4 linked regions of the Homo sapiens genome follow. The protein of the gene in region 1 interacts with the protein of each later gene in a pairwise test. Each region holds a gene or a part of one and is shown in the gene's direction. Other genes may lie near its edges. The genes, in order: ERRFI1, PLEKHA3, GTF2H2 and GNPDA2.

The links.
Region 2: the proteins of ERRFI1 (region 1) and PLEKHA3 interact in a two-hybrid assay, tested with the Homo sapiens proteins (one study listed by BioGRID).
Region 3: the proteins of ERRFI1 (region 1) and GTF2H2 interact in a two-hybrid assay, tested with the Homo sapiens proteins (one study listed by BioGRID).
Region 4: the proteins of ERRFI1 (region 1) and GNPDA2 interact in a two-hybrid assay, tested with the Homo sapiens proteins (one study listed by BioGRID).

What each region holds. Positions count from the first base shown.
Region 1 is NC_000001.11:8,016,294-8,023,326, reverse strand, and holds part of ERRFI1 (ERBB receptor feedback inhibitor 1), read left to right. Parts: intron 1-3,253; exon of another isoform or gene 3,254-7,033.
Region 2 is NC_000002.12:178,511,455-178,516,994, forward strand, and holds the end of PLEKHA3 (pleckstrin homology domain-containing family A member 3), read left to right. Parts: 3' UTR 1-5,009; downstream 5,010-5,540. UniProt on the Homo sapiens protein: Plays a role in regulation of vesicular cargo transport from the trans-Golgi network (TGN) to the plasma membrane.
Region 3 is NC_000005.10:71,057,667-71,064,699, reverse strand, and holds part of GTF2H2 (general transcription factor IIH subunit 2), read left to right. Parts: intron 1-1,903; 5' UTR 1,904-1,936; coding exon 1,937-1,992; intron 1,993-2,933; exon of another isoform or gene 2,934-2,934; coding exon 2,935-3,012; intron 3,013-3,391; coding exon 3,392-3,428; intron 3,429-3,769; coding exon 3,770-3,856; intron 3,857-4,529; coding exon 4,530-4,580; intron 4,581-4,955; coding exon 4,956-5,010; intron 5,011-7,033. UniProt on the Homo sapiens protein: Component of the general transcription and DNA repair factor IIH (TFIIH) core complex, which is involved in general and transcription-coupled nucleotide excision repair (NER) of damaged DNA and, when complexed to CAK, in RNA transcription by RNA polymerase II.
Region 4 is NC_000004.12:44,723,553-44,730,640, reverse strand, and holds the start of GNPDA2 (glucosamine-6-phosphate deaminase 2), read left to right. Parts: upstream 1-4,084; 5' UTR 4,085-4,167; intron 4,168-7,088. UniProt on the Homo sapiens protein: Catalyzes the reversible conversion of alpha-D-glucosamine 6-phosphate (GlcN-6P) into beta-D-fructose 6-phosphate (Fru-6P) and ammonium ion, a regulatory reaction step in de novo uridine diphosphate-N-acetyl-alpha-D-glucosamine (UDP-GlcNAc) biosynthesis via hexosamine pathway.

The sequences.
Region 1 (7,033 bases):
CAGCCTGGTGACAGAGTGAGACTCTGTCTTTAAAAAATAAACAAACAAAAAAATGTGGGGCTTTGGCTACAGAAATGGAGCCCTTTTCAACTTGGAAACAATAGGAAGGTAAGGATTGGAAGACATTATCCAAAAGCTCTTATTCAATACCCCAGATGTGAAACTGGACTAGTTACAGATTGTTTTTTAAACAACTATTCGCTCAGTAGAATTGTCTTCTGACTCTTATCAGGGCTGCCTCTTTTTCAGCCTTTAGATTTCCATTTAAAAGTCACCTACTCAGAGAGGCCTTCCCAAACCACCTGTGTAAATATATGCTCCTCTGCCTCCTTATCCTATTGCTGCTGTACCCTGCTTGTTTCCTTGGAAGGTATCGCCATCTAAAATTGTTTGCTTGCTTGGCTATTCTCTTCCTCCCTCATTAGATGGAAGGCTTCTTCAGGCAGCAGCCATCTCTATTTTTCACCTCACATGGTGTCTAATCCAGAATAAGCACTTGATAAATATTTGTGAAAAGAATTAATCCTTGCCCTCTAAGAATTTTTGAGCTGAATGAGCACTATGAGTTGAGTTTCTGTTCCTGCCTCTGCTATTGACTAGCACTTAGGTCTTGAGCATTTAACTTAACAGCCTTTTGCTTCAGTTTCTCCATTTATAAACAAGAATGTTACAAGGAGAAATGAGGTTGTTGCCTAAAATGAAGATACTATAGAGTGGAGAGGTAGTGAAAGTGTGGGGAAAATGCTGGATTATAGTACAGAAGAGCCATGATCGCCCTTTTGCTTATAGCAAGATATTTAACCTCACTTTGTTTCCTCATCTGCAAAATGGAGATTCTAATCCCTGCCTCTTCTTACAGGGATGTTGTGGGGATCAAGTGAGATAATGTGTAAGAAGGTGCTTTGTAACTTGTTGAGTGCTTTACAAATATAAGGTATGCTATTGTTAAATTCCGGATTTTACAATACAGTGTGATTATAATGCCATCATTGGGATCCATGCTGTGAAAGCATGTTAAAAGGAGGCCCGTTGGGTATATGTAGTAACCGCTTATTACGAGTAAAAACAGACTTGTGTTATATGAAATAACCATGTTGTAAAGAGTTCTGTTGTGGTGGGGCATCCGTGGATCGTTAAAGACTGAGGGCTTCAAAATAGTTGTTTGAAGTGGTAATAGAATGTCAAATTGATGCCTTAACCCACCCATTTTAGAGGATACATAGGCCAGATCTACAATTAATAACTTTTAATAGGAGAATTTGAGGGAGTTGAAGTGAAACAGGAACTTTCATAGGCTACAGGTTACCCAAGAAAAACTATTACCAGTAAATCCATAAAAAAGGATCTGTGCTACCCTTACAAGTTGAGCAGTATAGTCAGTCGGATCCTACTTCGCCAGTTTAAAAAGCCGTAGGGACAGGAAGAGGCAGTGTGGTGTGTTGGTGAAGGGCCTGGACACTGAGGCCGGGCTGTCTAGTTGAAGTCCTGGCCCCATTGCTCACCAGTTTTGACCTTGAGCAAGTTCTTTAACTCTGTGCCTCAAGTAAGTGAGAGTAATAATAGTAGCCCACCTTATGGCATTGTAGAGAGGATTAAATGAGTTCATACACATAAAGCACTTAGAACCATGCTTGCCTGGCAGTTGTATGTCCAGTGAATGTTAGTTATCATTAATGGTTTTATATTAATTGTAACAATCTAGAGTTACCCATCGGGTAACTTAAATGCTTGTTAAATAAATTTGAAGTTTTAAAGACTTGCGTCCCATCATTAGACCATTGTGCTCGTTGTCTTTAGATTAGAATTCACTTTTATAGTAAGAAATAATCTATTGTTATATGTCAAAAAGAAATAATATTTTTCTCCCCTCTGTGTGTATATATAGTTACTGATTGTGCTACTCTGTAGGAGAAATACAAAGGACAAAAGAATGTATTCCTGCTATCCTACTTTTCTGCTGTCACACTAAAATTGTGTGGGAGGCTTAAGTGAGTTGAAAGACTGGATTATGGTAGTTGAGGGAATGGGTTTTTTGTTAGTTTACCATTTTTTAAAATACTTAGCTAGAAAGCATTCTGAATTATTGAATAAATTACGTCATTTATTTTTTATTTGACAGTTTGAAGATAAATTATTTTCTCTGTTGCCTCTATTTCACCACCTACAAATGGTCCATTATGTTCTGGACATGTTTAAGAGCCTCTGAGGAATGGAGCTGCAAACACAGACACAAATGTTCATCTTTGCCACACTGAACTATATTTTAATGTTTACTGAAGCCATCAAGCTTTTCTTGAATTCATGCAGGAGTATTTTAATTACATTAAAACATGGCATTATTTTAAAAGTAATCTATGTTTTTAATTTAAAGGCTACTTATGCTTACCATGGTAGAGAGTACAACTAAGGAAGTTTTCTTAACTTGCCTCCCTCTTTCTTTTCCTACCCCTACCTAAATCATAGGCTATTAAAATGAAATCTGGGCCGGGCGTGGTATCTCACGCCTGTAATCTCAGCACTTTGGGAGGCCGAGGCAGGAGGATCACCTGAGGTCAGGAGTTTGAGACCAGCCTGACCAATGTGGAGAAACCCCATCTCTACTAAAAATACAAAAATTAGCCTGGCGAGTTGGTGCATGCCTGTAATCCCAGCTACTCGGGAGGCTGAGGCAGGACAATCGCTTGAACCTGGGAGGTGGAGATTGTGCTGTGCACCATTGCACTCCAGCCTGGGTGACAAGAGTAAGACTCCGTCTCAAAAAAAAAAAAAAAAAATTGGTGTTTTTTTGTTTGTTTGTTTGTTTTAATTTCCTCACAGGTGATTATTTTAGACATTTTAAAAAATAAACATGCAGAGATTGGTATATTTGGGGAGGATCTAAAATCATGGAGTTTGTCATATTCCTAAATCAGTTTCCTTTTATAAATTTTGCCTTTAAATGTAGTTACCTTATTATCTTCCTTGGTTATGGAAGTACTTAATGTAGGTGATTCTTAAATGGAACTGAAAAGACCATTTATCACCCTGAATAAACAGAAATCAGGTTCTAGAACCAGATTGAAAGGAGGAAATTACATCACACTCTTAAATAAGGAAGCACTGGGCAGAACTGGATGAGTTGTATGACAAAAATGTGCCCCTCCTCCTCCCATGGATGGCTTCTGAGATTTATTAATGAGATCTGGTGGCCAGGTAAGCATATCTAGGTTACTGCCTTAAGGTAGCCTGCATTTTTCTTTTTTTTTTTTTTTTAAGCAGTTTCAAAGAGACTGTCCTCAAGCTAAAGGCATATGATTTCACCTTAATGAAGAAGGTGCAGTGTGCTTTTGGTGTAACTTTTTTAGAAAAATGAAAGTCACCTTAAATTCAGCAGCAAAAACACAGTCTAGAAGGAATAGTGTTTTAAGAGAAGGCAAAACACTGTTTTAAGAAAGTACCCCCCCAATTGCTTCAAGTAAATATACTGTAACAGAAACCAGTTTAGAAAGCTACACTGTTAACCACTGAAGCTTATAATTTTTACTCAGTCTACAAACTGTCTTCTTTGAATTCTGGAAATGAATTTCATAAAAATTCCTTCCTGTTACATATCCTAAGGTTGTTACATTATTATTGGGCAGTCGCCTCACTCCAGCACGCATTAACTTTATCCTTTATAAATCTGCTTCTCCCCTGAGCTCTTCACTGACTCACAGTGTATGTGAATCTTTCATGTCATTACTTTTTAAAAATGAGATGGATATTTTCTCAGTATCCATTTAATAAATAATAGACATGAATGATGCCAAGATCTACAGGGGGAAAGCATAAATCAGACATCAGTTCTGTCCTAGATGATTTGAAGAGTGGAAGGGGAATTGGGGCCCAGCACAAAATAACACAAGAACAGAGCACCGCTGCTCCAGTGTTTCATGAAAGGGAGCGGCTTCATGGAGAAGGCAGGGTAGAGCTGACCTTAAAGGATGAATCGAATTGTAACAGAGATTTGGGGAAAATAGAAGCGCGCTTGAAAATATAGATTAGGTTTATATTGTGGAGGCCCTAAATTGCCAGGCTGAGGAGGTTTTATTTAGGAGCCTTTGAAGGTTTTTTGAGCAGCAGCAAATCTTAGCTTGAGCTGTTGTTAAGGAATATTGACTTGGTACTAGTGTTGTAGAATAGGTTGCATATTGCCAGACCCCAGGAAGAATGATGCCTGTCAATGGAAGGGTAAGATTTGAGAAACCATGTAAAAGTAGTCTGTGGAACTTGGCAATTGAATGTACATGGCCTCAGGTTAAAAATGGTGCCTTGAGAAGTGTGATCCTCTTAGACCCTGAACTGGTTTGGGGAGTGGGGAATGGAGTATGAAGTGAAAGGAGGAGTTTGGTTTGTAGAGTTTGAGATGCCAGAGGGCCATCCAAGTGGAAAGATAATCACCAGACAATAGGAAATGCAAAGTTGAAGCTTGAGCCAGGCTGGAGTCATTGATTCAGGAGCTGTCTATGAGTTGAAGCTATACAAGTGGATTAATAAAAGGATAACCTCAAGAAGCAAATGATTTTAGGGCTTCTTTTTTCGTTGAATTTAGAAAAGAATCAAGTTAACAGGAAAAGGTGGTTCACATCTGAAATTTGGTATTTAACTGCATTTTAGACCCACTAAAAAAGCTAAAAATAGTTGATGAAGTTTGGAGAAGTTATGCTGAAGGTTATTTGGGTCCCCGTCTAAACCATGCTGTCTGGATTCACATTCGCTTTCCTATTCTTGGATTCCATAACATAATCCCATCTTGTACTTTTTAGATACTGATTTCCCCACATAGGTACATTTTTGCAATTGTTTTCCTCTAATGAGTTGTAAGACAGATAAAATGTGAAAAATTGGCATTAAACATCACTTGGGAAGAGTTTGTTTCTTTTTAGCTTGAGGTTGGTAAAATGGATTTATTTACTCCGCGCCCCCCCCCCCCCCGCCCCCCGCTTCCATTTGTGCTGAATACTAGAAGGTTTTTAGAGAGAGAGAAAGTTTCAGGTGGTTTCATACCCTCAGTTTACAATCTGAGAAACATTTTTTTTAAAAGCTTCCTTCCAAACCTATAGCACATTGCCCTTTTTGAGTCTACAGTTTGAAGTTATTTTCCAAAAGAAGAGAACATGGCAGTTATATTGCCCCCCTCGTCTCCCATGCTAGCAAGTAGGAAGTTCGGACAGTTTCATAACATGGCCCATTCACAATTCCCCATTGAAATTTAGAGGCAGGTCACCTTCTATGAATACACAAAGACACTATTGTGGTCAGAAGTGAGCTGGCTTAGTGAACACAATTCTTTTTATACTAAAAAAATTTTTTTCTTAAGAAAGCTAACAAGTAGGTGATGGAAACAATGAATAAAAAATAACTTTTTCTAGAACATATAAATAATTTTAAGTGACCATTGAAATGTAAGTTTAGAATTCCAAGGCAATTTCTGCAGAGGCGATAGTTACACAATCATTCTGTTGAAAGCTAAGATTTAGATGGCATTAGGAGGCTGACACACAGTAATTACTAGTAGTACTTGTTGGCTTGCAGACAGGTGGGGGTTGGGCCTGCAGAATCCCCTGCAGCATTTTCCTGTAATCTGGATGAGCGATCTTCAAACGTGTGCTTTCAAACTACTTAAATACCATATTCTTCCTATCTTGCCTTTCATTTTTATATTACCACAGATACTTTCCTCATAGTCTTGCCAGTGCTTGTAGAATGCTTAGAAAAAGCTTGATAAACCACTGGGCTAAGTACACAGAGGGAGAGGCTAGCAGTATTTTTAAATTGGTTTCTAAATTTTTTATAGCTTGATGGTAGATAACACATTTGCTTCATTGAAGTAATCTGAAAAACCAATCCTCAAAAGACCTCTCAATTAGAATTCTTAAATGACAATGTTTTCTTTATCATATATTTGAGAGATTGATTTAAAGAAAAATAATGCTTGACTATCTGAAATAATATTTTAACCCTATCATAAAATCTCTGCCTGGTAGAACAGCTGACTGTGGAAGGGTAAAATGCAGAGAACCAGTCATTGGATCTCCCTTCTCTACTTTGTTACTGAAATCTTGAACCTGTAGAACATTACTTATCACTGTGTTCCTTTCTAATGGGAAAATAATAATAAACACTTGCAGAGTATTTTTTAAAAGTTTTTAGCTTTAAAAAAAAAAACCCTGTGCCTTACACAATGTGTATATTGAGTTGATACTGATTATGATAATTAGATGGTATTATACAATCATTCATTCAGCAAACATTCACTTACTGAGCACCTACTAATGTTCCAGGTACTGATTGTTAAAAGGTGATTGAGACACAGCCTCTGTCCTGAGCTTAGTCTAGTAGGAGGTGACAGATTTGTAAATAATAGATTTGAAGTTGCTGAGCAAAAAAAAAAACAAAAAAAAAAACCTGTGTACCTCTCCCCCACAGCAAATGTGTCACATTTGCACAGTGCCCAGCCTTTGCACAGTGCCCAGCACTCAGCTGTGCAGATATTATTTGCACTGATCCCTTACTAATATTTAGTGAGAGAATGAGATCGTGTTAAAGAGTGTATATGTACGTGCCCCCAAAAGGGGTCAGTGTTACACAATAGTTGACAAATAATATCCTGGTGCCTAAGGAAAAAAACCTAAACTTATAAATAAACTTGGCTATCTGAAGACAGCAGAGATTGATGCTGACTAACACATAACGAATAATAAAAAAGGAAAGTGAAAAGGGGGCTATAGGGACTCCAGACCTGTAACATCTGACAAAGGGGATTGGCGGTCCTGAAGTTGAGGAACTACTAATTTAAGAAAAATGTACTTATTTTGTTATCCATGCCTTGCAGCTAAGCAAGATATGAGTTACTGGGTGTTTCACAAAGGAGGATGTAAAGAATGTACCTTTAACTTGTCTTTAAAAGGGAGGGAGGAAGCTGTCCCAGGCTTTTACTGAAGCCAGTAATCTTGCAGAACTTGATTTTTACAGGATAATGGAAATTAGTATCTTCATATATTACTGTTTGTTC
Region 2 (5,540 bases), on another chromosome or scaffold:
CCTCCACCTCCGGGGCTCAAGCAATTCTCGTGACTCAACATCCCAAATAGCTGGGACTGTAGGCACGCACCACCATGCCCAGCTGATGTTTTGTATTTTTACAAAAATTTTTCACCATGTTGGCCAGGGTGGTCTCAAACTCCTAAGCTCAGGAGATCCGCCTGCCTCAGCCTTTGAAAGTGCTGGGATTACAGGCGGGAGCCACCGTGCCCGACCTGACCTCTCCATCTTTGGCGTCCTTATGCTGCCTCTTCTCCAAATACATGTTGGCCAGGGTGGTCTCAAACTCCTAAGCTCAGGAGATCCGCCTGCCTCAGCCTCTGAAAGTGCTGGGATTACAGGCGGGAGCCACCGTGCCTGACCTGACCTCTCCATCTTTGGCGTCCTTATGCTGCCTCTTCTCCAAATACAGTAACTAATCTAGTATATTTTCATAGGATAGAATTTGCCCTTTCTGTCCCATAATATGTTCCTCTTCCCCAAAAAGTTTTTTGTTGGTCTCTTTGGTAATAAAACATTTAGAGCATTTACTGTGGGCCAGGTGCTTTACCTCATGTTAGCCTTATAACAGAGATGCGGAAGTACAGGACTACCAGTGCAGCCAAGATGCACAGCACCAGGATTAACTCATGAGACTGATTAGAATGATGAATATCTTATTGTATCCTGAAACATTAAGCCTTTAAGTTATCCCTTTATTTAGTATTTAAATTCACATGCTTCTTGATTTTTTTGGACTAGCATTAGTTGTTGAATAAATAAATAATTCAGAATGTATCCACAAAACCTAGAATATATGACAGGGTGGATTCAGTTTTGCTTAGTTACTGTAGATAAACCAAATAAATTAATGTAAAGGGATATTAATGCATTAAGCAATTTTTTTTGACATAAATGAAGGGTTGTTTCCATGGGTAATATATTCAGAATATTAAAGATGAGTAAAATGTATGACTATAATGAATTCCTTCTTCACTTTTACTCTGGCAAGGTGGGAGGAGGGTGCTGTTGATAATCTCTGTGCTTTTGCAAGTTTGGCACAAAGACTTTTACTCACTTAAATCTCAATATAAAGTATATTGCCAGATCTGGCAGCATGGGGACAATTAGGAACAAAGGAGAGAGAATAGAATCAGCCATCAGGAGCTATAACCACACTCTTCTTTCTCAACCTTTTCTGGTATTAGTAGGCAGAACTCCTTTTGGATGCGGTGAAGCATTTTATGAGTGAACAATGGTGAGTCATGTAATGAAAGGAGATGTTCTAGGAAAACTTTTCAGTCCCGCTCAGTGCTGCCATCTTTTTCTCCCAGCACTCTGGACTTAAAATTCTGAGAGAACAGGGTATTTCCCACCCTTCCTCTTACTTTTTGAAAGCAATACCTGAGTTATTAAGCAATCATTTAGACAGTATGAATAAACCAAAATTCACCTTGACACTCCATCCCCTAGAGGTAACCATTCTTTTCTAGTATATATTCTTCCAGACCTTTTTCCTGTGTATTGACTTTTAAATAGATGTACATTGCAATAGTTTGGATTAGCTCATCCATAGCAGGGTGGTTAAATAAACAGTGGCACTTTTTTTTTTTTGAGACAGAGTCTCACCCTGTCGCCCAGGCTGGAGTGCAATGGCGCGATCTCGGCTCACTGCAACCTTTGCTTTCCAGGTTCAAGCGATTCTCCTGCCTCAGCCTCCCAAGTAGCTGGAATTACAGGCGAGCACCACCATGCCTGGCTAATTTTTGTATTTTTGGTAGAGACGGGGTTTTACCGTGTTGGTCAGGCTGGTCTCGAATGCCTGACCTTGTGATCTGCCTGCCTTGGCCTCCCAGTGTCAGGATCCTGGCCCCAGTGGCACATTTTTATGATGCATCTGGTACTAAAGAAGGAGCTGGCTTTATGACCTTTACTTGAGTATTTTTTTGTGTGTGACAGTTGAACAATTCTGACCCCTATTATTGTTGGCTGGACAGGCATTTTCTTTTTAATTCCTCTATGCAAGGAACTGTGGATTGCTTTTTTCTGGATAGCTAGAACGAGGCCATTTTCTTTCAAAAGACAGTCCTAGAGTTTCCAGTGGTTTTCTTTAATTGTGTATGCGTGAGTGTGACAGTGTGTGTGCCTGTGTCTCTATCTGTGCATGCATCTGTATGCACAGTTTCTTAGTTGTGGACAATGCAACTTGGAATCATTTTAGTTTTCCAATTGATTTTAAAAGTTTATCTATAGAAGATGAGACAAATTTGCTGTAGAAGTTACCACTACTTGGTCAAAATAGAGAGTTGTGGGTTTTTTTTTTTGTTTGACAACAATCAAAAGTATGGCCTACAGATAGTAAGGGTTAACCACCCAGATTTTTGTCAGATAATATATACATGTCCATGTAATTAAAAGTCTTCATTTGACAAATTTATATGGTAAATGAGCATAAAATGAATATCTTTTCAGTATTAGAACATTTCTGTTTATGCCCTATTCCAGTGGTATTTGTGGTCGCTAGGGGTTGCTGGGTTATCCAAGTGATTCAGCATGCCTTCAGAATTGGCATCCTCGGGTGATTGTCCATAGCCTCTTGCAATGGTGCCTCATCTTGGGGAGGCTTTAGAACACAGCTCTCATTTAGCTTATTATTGATTTTTTTTTCTTGTTTTGCAGTTGTTGGCTAGAGAAAAGTGTGTAGCAATAAGTACGCACACTTACTGTGGTTTACCATCATGACCATGGATAGCAAACTGCCTTTTTTTTTTTTTTTAACTCCTGTGTCATCTCTGATGTTGTGGCTAATTTTAAGACTTTGATTTTTCAGCTAGGATTAGCGGAGAATGACCTACCTACTTGATTAATGATGTCTGCATGGGCTTACTAAGAGGGTGTGGGGAATGGTGGCAGGGGTAACTATCATCGAGAATATAGGGCAATGGGTATATTCTAACTTTGCATAACTTTGCTAGATTATATATATCTTTACTCACAATAAGCAAAGTTGAACAACTTAAAATTGATTCCCTGTTTTCTGTTTTCACTATCCAACTAGGATGAACTCTTAAGTTCATACATATACTTTAAAATGGGAACAAACATAGCCTGTCATGTCTTTATTTAGGCTAAGTGCATATGTATGTATAAGTAATGTGTATATCCTTCACTTATTAATAGTGCCTTCATGAATTCAAAGACCCTTGTCACATGGTGCTCAGGAAAAAAAAAGTGCCAATATTCTTTTTTTTTTTTTCTCTAAGAAGTACTAGTTTAGGTAAGTGAAATTCAATAGCATATCAGTGCTTTACCTTAGTCACTTTTTGTGTTTTGATCACCCTTAGTCATCACTGGAGAGAAGAGTTTGAATTCATTTGTGGTTTTGCTTTAGTGGCAAACCTCCTTACAGGGATGAGTTGCCCTCCATTCTCCTTGCCATATTTGGTTAATCTAGGCCATGACCTTTGAGGGGAAAAGGCACAGATTGCAACTTTTCTTTCCTGCTTTTGTGAATCAGGCCATGTTCACGCAGGGTCCTTGAAGGTGACTTGAGTGAGGAAGCTATATACCGATGACTTACCAATTTTTGGTCTTATAACATTCTCTCTCTTTTTTTTTTTTTTTTTTTGTAGCATATGGCTTCCTCTACTGTATGTTGGCATTTGCCACTTTTGGGGATTTGACTCCTGCAGGTATTTTTTTTTTTTTCTTTTGGGGGAGTGTGACGGCAGTGGATATAGTCTTAGATGATGTTTTTAATAGTTCAAGTCCATTAGTGTCTTACTCTAGAGAAAACGAAAGACTCACTGTGTGAGTTTTCTTGCCCTCTGGTTTTCAGAATTCTGTGTAGTTTCTCAACATTTCCTTTCTACCTGTCCTGAAGAGCTCTTATGGAAATCATGGTTGAATGTTAGTAAATTTCTAAGAGCTTTCCAATGTTGTCTATAATTAGCCAAAAAAAGACATATGAACTTTTCTCATTCTGTCTACCTTTTTAAAATTTTATTCACTTTATCTTTTTCTCCAGTTTTGATAGATGATTATAGAGTTCCCCAAAATGGCCTTCTTACTATTTCTATATTAGGTATATTATTTCAGAAAAGAAAATAATCACTTGGGAATGGCGGTGAGTTCAGGGGGTCTGTTAACCATTTAATTTAGGATTGTTTATACATTTATTTACCTCTTTTAAAAAATTTCTTCAGTTAATATTCATTGACCACTCACTAAGTGTTATGTTGCTAGTATTTATCTTTGCTTTCTAATTATTTTTTTGTAATTTTTTTGCTTTCTAATTCTTGAGTGAATTTAAAACTCACTGCTTTATTATTTAATATCTTAGATACAATGACTATCTTAATTATAATTGGCTTTCCAAAATTTTCACTTTTTTTCAGTTAACTAGTTGAATAGTATTTATCATTCACATTTGCACCCTAACTATTGTTTTAACCTAAACATAAATAAGCAAGCATTAGAAAGTAGCATAATTGCTGTTAAAATAGTCTTTTCTTTGCGTGTTTAAATATTGTTAGAAACATAAGCACATGAATTTTTTTGGCCTTTTAAATGTCTTTATTGTAGCTAGTTATAAGATGTATATATAGCTTATATATGTGTATATACACATACATATATATATATACATACATATATATACATAAAATGATTCTTGCAAAAGTAGTTATGGGTATTTAAGTGAAAAATTTGTAAGTTTAGAAGTTAAGAAATTGGAAATAATGGAATTGGTTTAAAAAGCTAGTCTCTAAATTAACTTAGAAACCTAATAGCAAATACAGATTTTGATTGCTATAACTAAACACTTTAATTTTGAAAAAGTTTCAGAATAGAATTTCTATTCCCAGGGGAAAATAAACTTCATTTAAAAATATATGTATACTTATTTTGTGAGTATTTTTTTCTTTTCCAAATTCCAAAAGGTGTATACTCTATATTTTTGTCATAAAAATTCTGCTTGTCGAAAATATTGTAGTAATTTTATAAATTCAATAAAACCTGAGTGATGTGAACAGTGTGGGGGAAAATGTTTAATAAATTTGCCATGCCACTGAGAAAAACTTAAATACAGCATGTTTTGAAAGTTTGAGGAAGCGTAACACTTTGCTTTTTAAAAACGTGACTGGTTTGCTGCACATTTAAATTTAAAAGCTGGTTGGCTATTTTAAGATTAGTGCTGTGATGTGAGAAAAGATAGTAGTGATGATAGCTAACCTTTAAACGAAAGCATACAGTGCATCACCTTATTTGTTTAGATCAGGAGTTCTCCATCTTGGCTGCACATTACAAACCCCCAGGGTGCAGCCAGGCACAGTGATTCACATCTGTAATCCCAGCACTTTGGGAGGCAGAGTTGGGCGGATTGCTTGAGCTCAGGAGTTCAAAACCAGCCTGGGCAACATAGTGAAACCTCATGTCTCCAAAAAAAAAAAAAAAAAAAAAAAAGAGCTGGACGTGGACGTGGTGTTGCTTGCCTGTAGTTCCAGCTACTCGGGAGGCTGAGATGTGGGGATTGCTTGAGCCCGTGAGGTTGAGGGTGCAGT
Region 3 (7,033 bases), on another chromosome or scaffold:
ATACCTGGCCTGGTTTTTTTTTTTTTTTTTTTTTGAGACGGAGTCTTGCTCTGTCACCCAGGCTGGAGTGAAGTGGCGTGACCTTGGCTCATTGCAGCTTCTGCCCTCCAGGTTCAAGGAATTCTCCTGCCTCAGCCTCCCTAGTAGCTGGGATTACAGGCACCTGCCACCATGCCCAACTAATTTATGTATTTTTAGTAGAGACGGGTGTTGCCATGTTGGCCTGACTGGTCTCGAACTCCTGACCTCAGGTGATCCGCACCTTGTCCTCTCAAAAGTGCAGGGATTACAGGGATGGAGCCGCTGCACCTGGCCCTGGCCTGTGTTTGTTTGTTTTGTTTTGTTTTCAACTTTTATTTTCACGGAGTACGTGTGCATGTTGGTTACATGGATAAATTGCTTGTTGTTGAGGTTTGGTATACAAATGATCCCGTCACCCTGGTAGTAAACATAGTACCTGATAGGCAGTTTTTCAACCCTCACTCTCTCCCATCCTTCCCTGTCTAATAGTCTCCAATGTCTGTTGTTCTCATCGTTATGTCCACGTGTACTCAGTGTTTAGTTTCCACTCGTAAATGAGAACATGCCGTCTTTGGTTTTCTGTTGCTGTTTTTTTTTAGGCCAGAGTGCAGTGGCACGATCTCGGCTCACTGCAACCTCTCTGCCTTCCGGGTTCAAGCAATTCTCCTGCCTCAGCCTCCTGAGTAGATGGGATTACAGGTGCTCGCCACCACATCTGGCTAATTTTTTTCTATTTTTAGTAGAGACAGGGTTTCACCATGTTGGCCAGGCTGGTTTCAAACTCCTGACCTCAGGTGATCCACTTGCCTTGGCCTCCCAAGTGCTAGGATTACAGGCGTGAGCCATTGCGTTGGGCCTCTGTTCGTGTTAATTCAATGAGGATAATGGCCTCCAGCTGTATCCATGTTGCTGCAAAAGACAGGATTTCATTGTGTTTTTTTTTCGTTGTTTTTTTGGCTGCTAGTATTCCATGATATATTACGTACCACATTTTCTTTATCCAGTCCACCATTTATGAGCATCTAAGTTGATTTGATGTCTTTGCTATTTTGGATAGTGCTGTGATTAATATGAGTGCTCTTGTACTTTTGGTAGAATGGTTTTATTTTCCTTTGGGTTTATACCCAGTATTGGGATTGTTGGATCGACATACATGTGTCCAATAAATATATGAAAAAATGTTCAACATCACTGATCATTAGAGAAATGCAAACCAAAACCACAATGTAAATCAAAACCACAAACCCATCTCACCACCAGTTAGAATGGATATTATTAAAAAGTCAAAAAATAACAGATGTTGGCAAGGTTGTGAAGAAAAGGGAATGCTTATCCACTGTTGGTAGGAATGTAAATTAGTTCAGCCACTATGGAAAGCAGTTTGGAGATGTCTCAAAGAACTATGTTTAATTTTGTGTCCTTTTTTTTTGAATTATGAGCTATAGCATTTACCCATTTATAAATAATAAATGTGATTTAAAAACTTTTGATTATGAGAAAACTGAGACATACACAGAGAGATAGTACAATGAATCACATGTCACTCAGCTATAATAGTTCAACTACGCCCATACTGACTCCTCACAAGTCTACAGTTTGTCATGTGACACATCTATAAAGCATTTTTGTTCTTTTACAAATCGTAAAAAGACGCTTATTTTTATTGGTACCAAGTTTGTGTATAAGTTCATATTATTTCTTGGAAATGAGAAATGGAGTTCTATGAAGATTTTTAAGACAATTATTGAGTAAAATACAAAGAATAAGATGACCTGGCATTCCATTTTTTTTTACTTCATATATGTGTCTAATTTTCAAATTTAATTGGATGAATTTTGTAACAAACATCTTTAGATAACTTACATTCTAATGGTTTTTACAGATTATTGAATAATAAAATACAGTTTTGAAAAAAATGGATGAAGAACCTGAAAGAACTAAGCGATGGGAAGGAGGCTATGAAAGAACATGGTAAGGAGAGCTTTATTGCCCTGTCTTTTCTTTTAGACAATGTCTTTTTTTTTCTTTACAACTTTATTAAAGTATATTTTACATATGTTAAAATTCACCCATTTCCAATGTACAATTCAGTGATGTTTTATTAATAATTTACTGAGCTGTGCAGCCATTATCATAAACCAGTTTTAGAATATTGTAACCACTCCAGTAAGATCCTTCACATTCATTTACAATTAATTTAAATCTTAATTTAATTCCACCTGTGGGCAATCATTAGTCTACTTTTTGTCTCCAAATTTTAACCTTTTCTGGACATTTCACAAAAATGTGATCATATACAATCATGTGCCACATAATGATGTTTTGGTCAAAGACAGACTGCATATATGACAATGGTCCCATAATATTATAATACTGTATTTTTACTCTACCTTTTCTATGTATGTTTAGATATACAAATACTGACCATTGTGTTACAGTTGTCTTAAGATATTCAGTATAGTAACGTGCTGTACAGGTTTGTAACCTAGGCGTGGGATAGGCTATACCATCTAGGTTTGTGTAAGTATACCCTGTGATATTCACACAATAATGAAATTGCCTAACAATGCATTTCTCAGAATGTATCCCTGTCAGTAAGCGATGCATGACTATAATAGTTGGTCTGTTGTGGCTGGCTTTCACTTATTTTTAAGACTCATCCATGATGCAGTGTGTATTAATACTTCATTCCTTTTTTATTGCTGAATAGTATTCCCATCTATGGTTATGCCACATTATTGTTTATCCATTCACTAGTCTGTGGATATTTAGGTTCTTTACAGTTTTTGACTGTTAGGAAAATGCAGCCATGAACACTTACATGCAAATCTTTGTGTGGACATATATTTTCATTTCATTTGGGCTAGTAATCATTTTAGCTTGTCTTTTCAAACAAATAATTATGACTTATAGGGAGATTCTTAAAGAAGATGAATCTGGATCACTTAAAGCTACAATAGAAGACATTCTATTCAAGGCAAAGAGAAAAAGGTATGTAACCTTCCTATGTATCTTAAAAAGGTAAAATATATTCATTTTAAGCCTTTCTATCTATAAATACTCCTCAGTACTTCATTTTAGCTGTGTTTCAGGGTAACTGACCTATTGCCTTCTGACTATGGGGAAAGAACTAGCCACCTACCCTTGCCCCAGCAGGAAATGGTCTTTAGAGACTGTCTACAATACCTATAATTGTGTGTATTGTATTCCATAAGTTAATTATTTACTCCACTAAAAATGCACGTTATGACATTCTTACTCAGAATTAGAAAAAAAGAAAAACAAAGGAGGTCAATTGGAAAGTTGTATTTTTTTTGTGGGGGGGGATAGTATATGGAATTACATTAAAATGTTTGTATAATTTTAACAGAGTATTTGAGCACCATGGACAAGTTCGACTTGGAATGGTATGTCATTATTTTTTCTTTTACTAGTACAGAACTAGTTTAGGTTAGAGAAACATTCTGTCTTGCTAGAAAAAACAATAGCAAAACAACAAAGTTTTTAAAAGAATATGTTAAAAATACGTGCATAGAATATGTAATTATTAAATGCCATTTTTACTAGTCAAAATGGCACTTGAGGCTGGGCACAGTGGCTCATGCCTATAATCCCAGCACTTTGGGAGGCCAAGGCAGGAGGATTGCTTGAGCCCAGGAGTTTGAGACCAACCTGGGCAACAGAACGAGACCCAGTTTCTACAAAACAAAACAAGTACTTGAAATTGGCCCTTTCTTTTTTCCGATAGATGCGCCACCTTTATGTGGTAGTAGATGGATCAAGAACAATGGAAGACCAAGATTTAAAGCCTAATAGACTGACGTGTACTTTAAAGGTAAAATTTAAGTTTATACTAAATCATTTAAATTTGTACCAAAATCACTTAAACTTTTACTAAAAAAGTGGGGAAGAACACTGGATTCTAAAGGATATTTTTAAAGAATGCAATATTTTTTATTTTTTGCCTTGTATTTTTAGTTAATGCTAATGATAGCTAAGTAGAAGTACTGCCAGGTTATTTAGGGAAATTTTAAACCAACATAGCTAATTATTTGTGTTTTTAATTTCTATCCTCCCACCCCACATCAGGATCTTGGTTTATCAGTTATCCCTTTTCTTTCTTGAATCTTCATTCTCCTTTGCCTTACTTAACTCTGTCTCCTCAGATTACAAATATGTTCGTATTCCTAATTTATCAAAACCTATTCTCAATTCTGCTCGTTCTCCCATCTCTCTTCATTGGATCTTTTCCTCATTGAAATTTCTTCTGACACATCCAAATGGTTCCATCTTTTAAAACCTAGCTCAAACCTATCTCATCACCCACCATTTCAAATTAACGTTTTTACTGTTTAATATTTTTATTACTTAACAGTTTTTGAAAATCTGTAAGTTTAAAAGTCATGAGAAGTGATGCTTGATTAACAGGTTTCACAAACATCAGTTGGACGTGTTCTTTATGATTGTTATTTTGCCTTTATCTAGTATGTCTTTTTTTGTTTAAACAGTTGTTGGAATACTTTGTAGAGGAATATTTTGATCAAAATCCTATTAGTCAGGTACGTATCTAAGTGATAGAATTCAGAATTAGATTCCTATTTTGCTTCCAAATGTAATTTATTTTTAAAAATTGGACATGTATTTTGTGAATTACCCAAATTGTTTAACCAGTTTCTGGTATACTTAAAAATGAAAAGCGTAATAACTCTAAAAGTTAAACGTAATGTGAACTCATAGCTAAATTTATTTGCCAAAAACAGCATGAGAAAAAGTTTCTCACCTGTTGCTTCTTTCTTTTGTAATTACTAGTTTATTTTAGCTATATAAATTATTTTTTTTTCTGCTCCAATATCATCTACAGGAATAGTTATATATATTCTTAATGGGAGGAAATAACTTGTTATATTAATAATAATTTTTGTTTTTATTTCAAGATTGGAATAATTGTAACTAAGAGTAAAAGAGCTGAAAAATTGACTGAACTTTCAGGTATGCATAAAATTACCTTTACATGACTCAAGGACTTTGCTTTATTTACCCAACCTCGTAGCCCTGTTTATATGGCTGCTTAATAAGTAACGTGAAGGGTGGTTCCTCTGTCTTCTCTAGGTGAAACAATTTAATAACATCTCCCCCACCATTATATTCTTAGGATACAAGGTTAACTATTCTAAATTGAGTTCTGCGTAGTGGTAAATAATACTACATTGAATATAAATGTTTTTATTTAAAATCTATATGTGCTTATCCTGAAATTTTTTTTCTTTCCTTTTTTTTTTTTTTTTTTTTGGAGATGGAGTCTTGCTCTGTCGCCAGGCTAGAGTGCAGTGGCACAATTTCGGATCACTGCAAAGTCCGCCTCACGGGTTCAAGCGATTCCCTGCCTCAGCCTCCTGAGTAGCTGGAACTACAGATGCCCGCCACCACGCCCTGCTAATTTTTTGTATTTTAGTAGATACGGGGTTTCACCATGTTGGCCAGTATGGTCTCAATCTCTTGACCTTGTGATCAGCCCGCCTCAGCCTCTCAAAGTGCTGGGATTACAGGCTTGAGCCACCGCATCCGGCCTTATCCTGAAAATATTAAAATACAGTTATTGTAATCATTTATAAAATCCAGTTAATCTTAAAATTAAATTCTTATAAAGTTAAGCATCTAATTTAAAAGGGAAAAAGTATAAAAATTAAACTGTAGCTATTGCTAATGAATCAATTTTTCTGCTTCCATGACATACCTAACTGAATTTTAGTTTCAAAACGTAGTAATGGCATTTTTTATTTGCTTTGGTATATATGCTGTTACAAATTTGCATCACTGATTCTATTTTATTTTCTGTGAAATACACTCTCCCTTAAATCTGGTTTTCAACCTTTTATCCTTGCCGGCACACATAAGGGAAATGACATACTTTCTTCATTAGTAGTTTTTCATTAAATGCAGTGAGGAGTGAAATGTACATTGGCCTGGAGTGATTCAAGAAACTCAGTTGTGAGTAACCAAAAGAATGTCACACTAGCTTAAGTGCAGAAGGAAAATTTTGGGCTATGTTCAAAGGTGGGCCAATTCCATATATAGTTGCTGCATATGTTGGGGTCCTGGCTTTGTCTGGCTTCATTCTCTGATAGATTTTCTGGAAGTTGAAAAGATGTCTCTTAATTGTCCCAGTCTACATTGTACCCGTAGCCTATAGCTTCAGCACACGTCTAGGGAGAACTCTGATTGGCCTGAGTTACGATCTGCCCATCCATGAACAAAGTGGCCAGGAAATGAAGTATTTTGTTTGTACGCTTCGATTGCCTGCTGATGCCCAGAGCAGGATAGAAGTAGGGTCAGCACCACATGAACTAAGCAGGATTATTATATAGTGGAAGAAGGATGGTTCCTCCAAGGTAGGAATATAAGGTCAATATTTTCCTCTCACTTTACCCACCCCGAGTTACCAGCAGTTTTCTATTACTTCTTTTTTTTTTTTTTTTTTGAGAAGGAGTCTCTCACTCTGTCGCCCAGGCGGTGCTGTCTTGGCTCACTGCAACCTCCGCCTCCCGGGTTCAAGTGATTCTCCTGCCTCCCCCTCCCGAGTAGCTGGGATTACAGGTGTGCGCTGCCACACCTGGCTAATTTTATTTTTAGTAGAGACAGGATTTCACCATGCTGGCCAGGCTGATCTCGAACTCCTGACCTCAGGTGATCTACCCACCTCAGCCTCCCAAAGTGTTGGGATTACAGGCATCAGCCACCATGCCCGGCCCCAGCAGTTTTCTATGGATGTTAGTGAAGTCATGTATAAAGATGAAAAATATTCTGGAGATTCTGACAGGCCTCTTGAAGCCACCTTTTTTTCCCTCCAATCAGACCACTGCTGTAAACCACACTGACACTATTGTAGTATGCTTTTTTCCTATACCCATAACACAGTGGGAGATTAAAAATAATTTTGTAGGGTAGGAAGAGAAGTGGATAGAGAGCCAGGAGATCTAGGTTTGGGTGCTGCTGGTCCTGCAGTTAAGCAGGC
Region 4 (7,088 bases), on another chromosome or scaffold:
AGTACAACATGGATGGAGCTAGAAAATATGGTGCAAAGTGAAAGAAACAAGACAAAAAAAGGCCACATATGGATTCCATTTATATGAAATATCTAGAATAGGCAAATCCACAGAGAGAGGAAGTATACTAGTGGTTGCCAGGAAATCAGGTAGGGGAGGGAGAATTGGAAGTGACTGCTAACAGGTGATGAGGTCTCTTTTGATGTGGGGTGGGGGATAGAAATAGAAAAACAGAATTAGATAGTGGTGATGGTTACATATCATTGTGAGTATACTGAAAGTCACTGAACTGTATACTTTAAAAGCCTGAGTTTATAGTATGTGAATTACATCTCGATGAAAATTATGTAATAGATAACCTGAATAATCCTGTATTTATTCAGGAAATTGGATTTATAGTTAAATTTTTTCAAAAAAGAAAACTCTATGTACGTACGGCTTCTCTAGTGAATTCTATCAAGTATTTAAAGAATACATTATGTTACTATAATTCAACACAAATTATTCCAAAACATTGAAGAGGGAAATTTTCCCACTCAATTTATAAGTTTGTTATTACTATGATACTAAAACTAGACAAAGACTTCACACACAAAAAAAAACTAATAAACAAAAAAACTATGGACTGATATCCCTCATACACATAGGTGTAAAATTTTTAAACAAAATTTTAGAACATTGAACCCAACAATAAATGTATAAGAAAGACCCTGACCAAGAAAAACAATGACCAAATCTAATTTTCTCCAGCAATAAAAGTGCACTCAACATTGAATTCACCAACATATTAGAGTGGAAAACCATACAACCATTTCAATAGATACATAGAAAGTGTTTGACAAAATTCAACATCCATTGTTGATTAATAAAACAACTATCAGCTATTAGTGAAATGCCTGATACCAAGGCTGGGTAGGAAAAATACAAGGTACACTCAGAGTCGTTCCGTGTTGGAGTCTTCATAACATACAGTCATGCATCACTTAATTATGGGGATACATTCTGAGAAATGCATCTTCAGACGATTTCATTATAGTGTGAATGTTATACAGTATATGCACACAAACCTAGCATATATACACAAACTACACATATATGGTATAGCCTATTGCTCCTAGACTACAAACCTGTACAGCATATTACTGAATACGGTAAGCAATGTAACACAATGGTATATATTTGCATATCTAAACAAAGAAAAGGTATAGTAAAAAAAAAAGTATAAAAATTAAAAAATATTAACAGTACACCTGTATAGGACATTTACCATGAAAGGAGCTTGCAGGACTGGAGGGTGCTCTGGGTAAGTCAGTGAATGAGTGGTGAGTGAATGTGAAGACCTAGGACATTACTGTACACTACTGTAGATTTTATAAACAATGTAGAGTTAGGCTACACTAAATTTATAAAACGATGTTTTTTTTCTTCAATAGTAAATTTAATTTCCTGTAGCTTTCTTACTTTATATTTAAATTTTTAAAAAACTTTTTGGCCGGGAGTGGTGGCTCACGCCTGTAATCCCAGCACTATAGGAGGCTGAGGAGGGGGGACCATGGGGTCCGGAGATCGAGACCATCCTGGCTAACACAGTGAAACCCCGTCTCTACTAAAAACACAAAAAATTAGCCGGGTGTGGTGGCATGCGCCTGTAGTCCCAGCTACTCGGGAGGCCGAGGCAGGAGAATTGCTTGAATCTGGGAGGTAGAGTTTGCAGTCAGCCAAGATTGCGACACTGCATTCCAGCCTGGACAACAGAGTGAGACTCTGTCTCAGAAAAAAAAAAAACTTTTTGACTCTAGTAACAACGTTAAGGTTAAAACACACATTGGAGAGCTGTCCAAAAATATTTTGTTTCTTTATATCCTTATTCTATAAGTTTTTTTATTTTAAAATCTATTTTTAATTTTTTTCCTATTCAAATTTTTTTGTTAAAATGAAGACACAAACACACATGTTAGCCTAGGCCTACACAAGGTCAGGATTATCAATCTCCCTGTCTTTCACTTTCACATCTTATCCCACTGGAAGTTCATCAGGGCAATAATGCACATGGAGCTCTCATCTATAATAACAATGCCTTCTTCTGGAATACCTCCTGAAAGACCTCCTTGAGGCTGTTTTATAGTTAACTTTTAAAAATATAAATAGGGCCAAGCATGGTGGCTCACGCCTATAATCCCAGCACTTTGGGAGGCCGAGGCAGGCAGATCACGAGGTCAGGAGTTCGAGACCAGCGTGGCTAATAAGTGAAACCCCGTCTCTACTAAAAATAAAACAAAATTAGACGGGCGTGGTGGCAGCTGCCTGTAATCCCAGCTACTCAGGAGGCTGAGGCAGGAGAATTGCTTGAACTCAGGAGGCAGAGGTTGCAGTGAGCCAAGATTGTGCCATTGCACTCCAGCCTGGGTGACAGTGCGAGACTCTGTCTCAAAAAAATAAACAAATAAATAAAAATAAAAATAGAAATAGAATGAATACACTCTAAAATAATGATAAAGAGTATAATATAGCAAATACATATACCAGTAACATAGTCATTTATTATCAAGTATTATATCCTGTACATAATTGTATGTGCTAGACTTTTATGAGACTGGAAGCACAGTAGGTTTACACCTATGTAGCCACAAACACGAGTGGTGTTGCTCTACAACTTTACGTTTACTACAATGTCGCTAGGTGATAGGAATTTTTCAGTTCTGTTATAATCTTATGGGACCATTGCCAAATATCCAGTCCATTCTTTACCTAAACTTCCTTATGTGGCACATATCTGTAATTCAAGACTGTAATTCAGTCTCCACCTTTCTACAGCATTCTTTCTAAAACACGTATGTTCTAGTCTCTTATCTTCAATTCATAAAGCTTAAGTGACTCCCTATTGCCTACAATACAAAGCCTAAATTCTATGCATAGCCTACAAACTACTTCATCATTTTACCTCAATCTTTTTTGGAGAGACAGGGTCTTGCTATGTTGCCCAGGCTGGTCTCCAACTCCTGGGTTCAAGCCATCCATGCACCATGACCTCTGAAAGTGCTGGGATTACAGGCGTGAGTCACCGAATCTGGCCAAAAATCGCTTTTGCAAACTTACTGAAGGCGATAGTACTAATAAACCTGTCTATTATCAGTATGTGAGCAATGTTGCTGTTTGAAGCTAAATCAACGAGAATGTAACATCCTACTCTTCACTAAAGGATGCAAGAGGAGTCATTACATTCAAAGAAGCAGGCTGGATTTACAACCCAGGTGAAAAACTTCATATAACGAGTTTGAGGACACAGCGTTTTACATTTTTTTAACTTGTAGTTTCCACAGAAACAGAACCTTAAGTTGGCTAGGAGTCAAGATTGTATTGTTCCTAACAGAACCCTAAACGGTGTTATTAATGGAACAGTGTTCCTGATGGAACATGGTGAAGACACAACACACTTTTCTCCTTTTGAATGATAGCTGCTTTCTTTACAATAATTTCCACAGCCCAATTCCTTCCCACTCCTGTATAAACATCTGTGATACCCAGCTCAAAGCTGATTCCAGCTTCCCCTATCCCTTTCTTAGACTCATTCAGCAAAAGCCAGTACCCTATTATATAGTGTTTTCTCTTACTGAGACGCTCCCGATTTCCCATGGTACTGTTTGCCCTTTTGCAAACTTTGATGAGTTTTTTGACACAAGACGCTTATCTGTCATTGCGTTTGCAAATATGCATTCAATAGCTTGGAGTAGAGAGAGAAATGTATTCATAAATGGCAAATATATTCATGTTGCCAAACAGCAACATAAGCAACAAAGTACGTGTGAGCACTACGGTCTTACATACTAAATCTCATAAGCCTAAAGAATCTACTGCAAATCCCTCTTTGAAAGATGGGGGGGAGGGGAAAGTAGCGTAAAGTGATGACCCAGAAACTGCGATCTTCCAGGCAAGAAGAGCGCCCAGCCGCACCGCACTCGGACCGAACTCCTCGCGTCTCACCTCAGGCGTCCTAAAGGCGGTGCGCATGCGCAGCGCCCGCCAGCCACGCCGCGGTTCCTTCCTGCGCCTTTATCTGCATCCGGGTCCGTGGGATTCGCGCTCCACTGGTCAGCTGGGGTCGCTCTCGGGTGGTTGGGTGTTGCTTGTTCCCGCTGTTCCAGCATCGAAGAACCATTGGGTCTGCCGGTAAGTTTAGCGGGGGGTGCGGCGGGGGCGCCAAGAAGGGGACTCGGGTCGGGGGACCCGACGGCAACTTCGCCCTGTGCGGCCTTTGTGCTGAGACTGGGACGCCGGGCCGGGGCGGAATGGGTGCTCAGGAACCTCGAGGCTGGGGGCGCGTGGGGTCTCCCGTATTGCCACTCGCGGACCTGGTTGTCCTCTCCGGATTTGTGCCTACGGGAGAAGGCGTCCCTGCCCTCTCCTCTCTCGCGGCTTCTTCTTGACACCTCTCTCTACACTCGTTAAAAATTCCTAACAGTCATCCTCATTTGCATTCGCTGTCCTTTGCCAAGTGAGGGCCAGGCAAACGCGCAGCTGAGGGGAATCTGCAGCCCCCGCCTCCCGGGCAGGAACCACAGCCTTCTTTGCTGTCTCTCGTCCCTCCTCGGGTCGGTCCCACACGCGCGGCCAGGCCACCCTTACGCTTTCAGGACAGGTCAGGTTGAGTAGGGAAAAGCTCAGAGCAGAGGTTCTGCAAGTGTAGATTCTGGTCTTGGCCCCGCCATTAACTAGCTGTGTAACTTCACGGGTGTAGAAGTTGTCATCCACCATTGAAGTTTTGCGATTTATATTCAGCAGCCCTTTTTCCTAGCGATGCACATCCAAAATGAATCAGCACCTGAAGGAAGACGAGGGAAAGGGTGGTGCTCTGTTGTTTTTTGATGCTGTCTTGTGATGCCAGAGAATTGCATAAGGCGACAATAGTTTGGATCTCTGAGGATTGGCAAAAACTGGAAAAGTCAAATCTTAAAAACTTAAATGTGGTGAAGAAATTCTTCTTTGCTCTGGGTGAAGGGATTCATTTGGGACTTTTGGAGGTGACTCTGCGCCCTCCAGAGAGTTTAAGAAAACAAAAAGTTGCCTGTACCTTGGTCTGAGAGACTTGCTTAAACTTCGTTTCAGTGAGATGTGTGGTGTTCTTAACAAATTTCACCTGATTATGAATATCCCCTGTGATAATTTGCAAAAGCAGAGATTCCTTGGACTTCATTTCAGATCTTTTGAAACACTGTGTCTAGGGAGAGGGACCTGAGAATCTGTATTTTTAACTAGCATCGTAAGTGATTCTCAACCGGTAAGACATCTTTGGCTAATGTCTCTTTGAGTCAGAAACACTTAGTTTTAAAGCCAGCTCCCCGGGCCACTTTTTAACGTCAGCAATAAACTTCTCGTAGTTGCAGTTTTCTGTATATGAAGAGTGAGAATAATGCTTTCAACCTCAGAGACAAGTGATTCTAAGCCCTTTGACAATAGAGTTAATCATTTTTGTGTCTACAGAACCTAGCATAGTGCTTAGAATATAATAGGTCTTCAAACGTGTGTTGAACTGAGAAAAATAACATGCCCAGGATGCAGAAGACATTGGAAAGCTCTAATGCTTCTCGTCCTCCTTACCTTATTTTTTTTCCGTTTTATTAACAATCAGCTGGCCATATATTCTTGTTAGAAGTAAATATATCTTTTGATGTTCATTACAGCCAATAATTCTTTCTGATTCTTTGGTTTAACTCTAAAATTGTTTTTGACATTAGATTATGGATTATATTTAAGTGGAGGCTGAGTCCAGTTGTTGGACTGAATTTATGACTTACTATGTAATTTATTTTCTGTAAATAAATAATTGTTATCGGGCCAGAATTCTAGATCATGGTGACCATGATTTTTTGTTGTTGTGTCAGAATTCGAAACTGTTACCTTCTTAAAGACATTTAGATTCCATACATTTATTTTAATAAGACCTTTTAATCTCATTAATTTAGAAAATTTGACTTATTACTCTATGTAAAGTGTGTGGGTACAAAACTCAGGAATGCTGAAACCATGTTATAAAAAGCTTGGTATTGGTGACTGATCCATTTAATATAAAAATAAGAATTAAAAATCTAAGAATTATGGGAATTATTACAGAATGTTCAGTAAATGTTATAAGGGGACGTTTATAAACTATTGATGGTAATGTCAGTTCAACTTCTGTAGAAAAAAGTATGAAGATTTCTCAAAGAACTGAAAATAGAACTACCATTTGATCAGGCAATCTCACTACTGGGTATCTACCCGAAGGAAAATAATTCATTATATCAAAAAGATACCCGCATTCATTTTTATCTCAGCACTATTCACAGTGAGGCAGTAGAATAGGGTCTGGAGGCAGAGGACTTAAGGCCAATTCGTGCTGACTTCCTAAAGCTAAATCAAAGGAAAACACCAAGGTCTGGGGGCAGGAAATCTAAGGCCAATTTGTGCTGACTTCCTAAAAGAGAAAACACCTGCGTCTGGGGGCAGGTAACCTAAAGCCAGTTAACCAATTAACGCAAACTTCCTAAAGCTAGACCAAAAGGAAAAAACCCATCTCCCCATGCCCAAGTAGCAAAGGACCAAAGGCTACTCTCCCTACGATCGACTGCCTTCCACCACCTCTCAGATGGAAGGGGAAAGTGCCTTGGATTGTCCGTGGACTAAGCATGGGCCATCCCTTCATCTGCATAGGGAGCCAATTCACCTCAGCCTTTAATTAGCCACGGACCAAATCCTTCATGCAGATAAGGGGTAACCGATAAGGGACCTCAAAAGGAGTATTAAAACCCAGAAAACTTTGTAACCGGACCCTTGAGCCGCTTGCTTGGGCCCACTCCCACCCCATGGGGTGCTTTCTTGCTTCAGTATCCCTGCTTTCGCTGCTTCATTCCTGTGTTTCGTTCCTTTTGTGCAGTTCTTTGTTCAAAATGCCAAGGAACTGGACACCTCACACTCATGACCTTCCTTCCAATAACAACAGTAGCAAAGATAAGAAATCAACCTGAGTGTCCATCAGTGAATGATTGGATAAAGAAAATGTGGTATATATATACACCGCGAAATTCAGCCATTGAAAATGAAATCATGTCCTT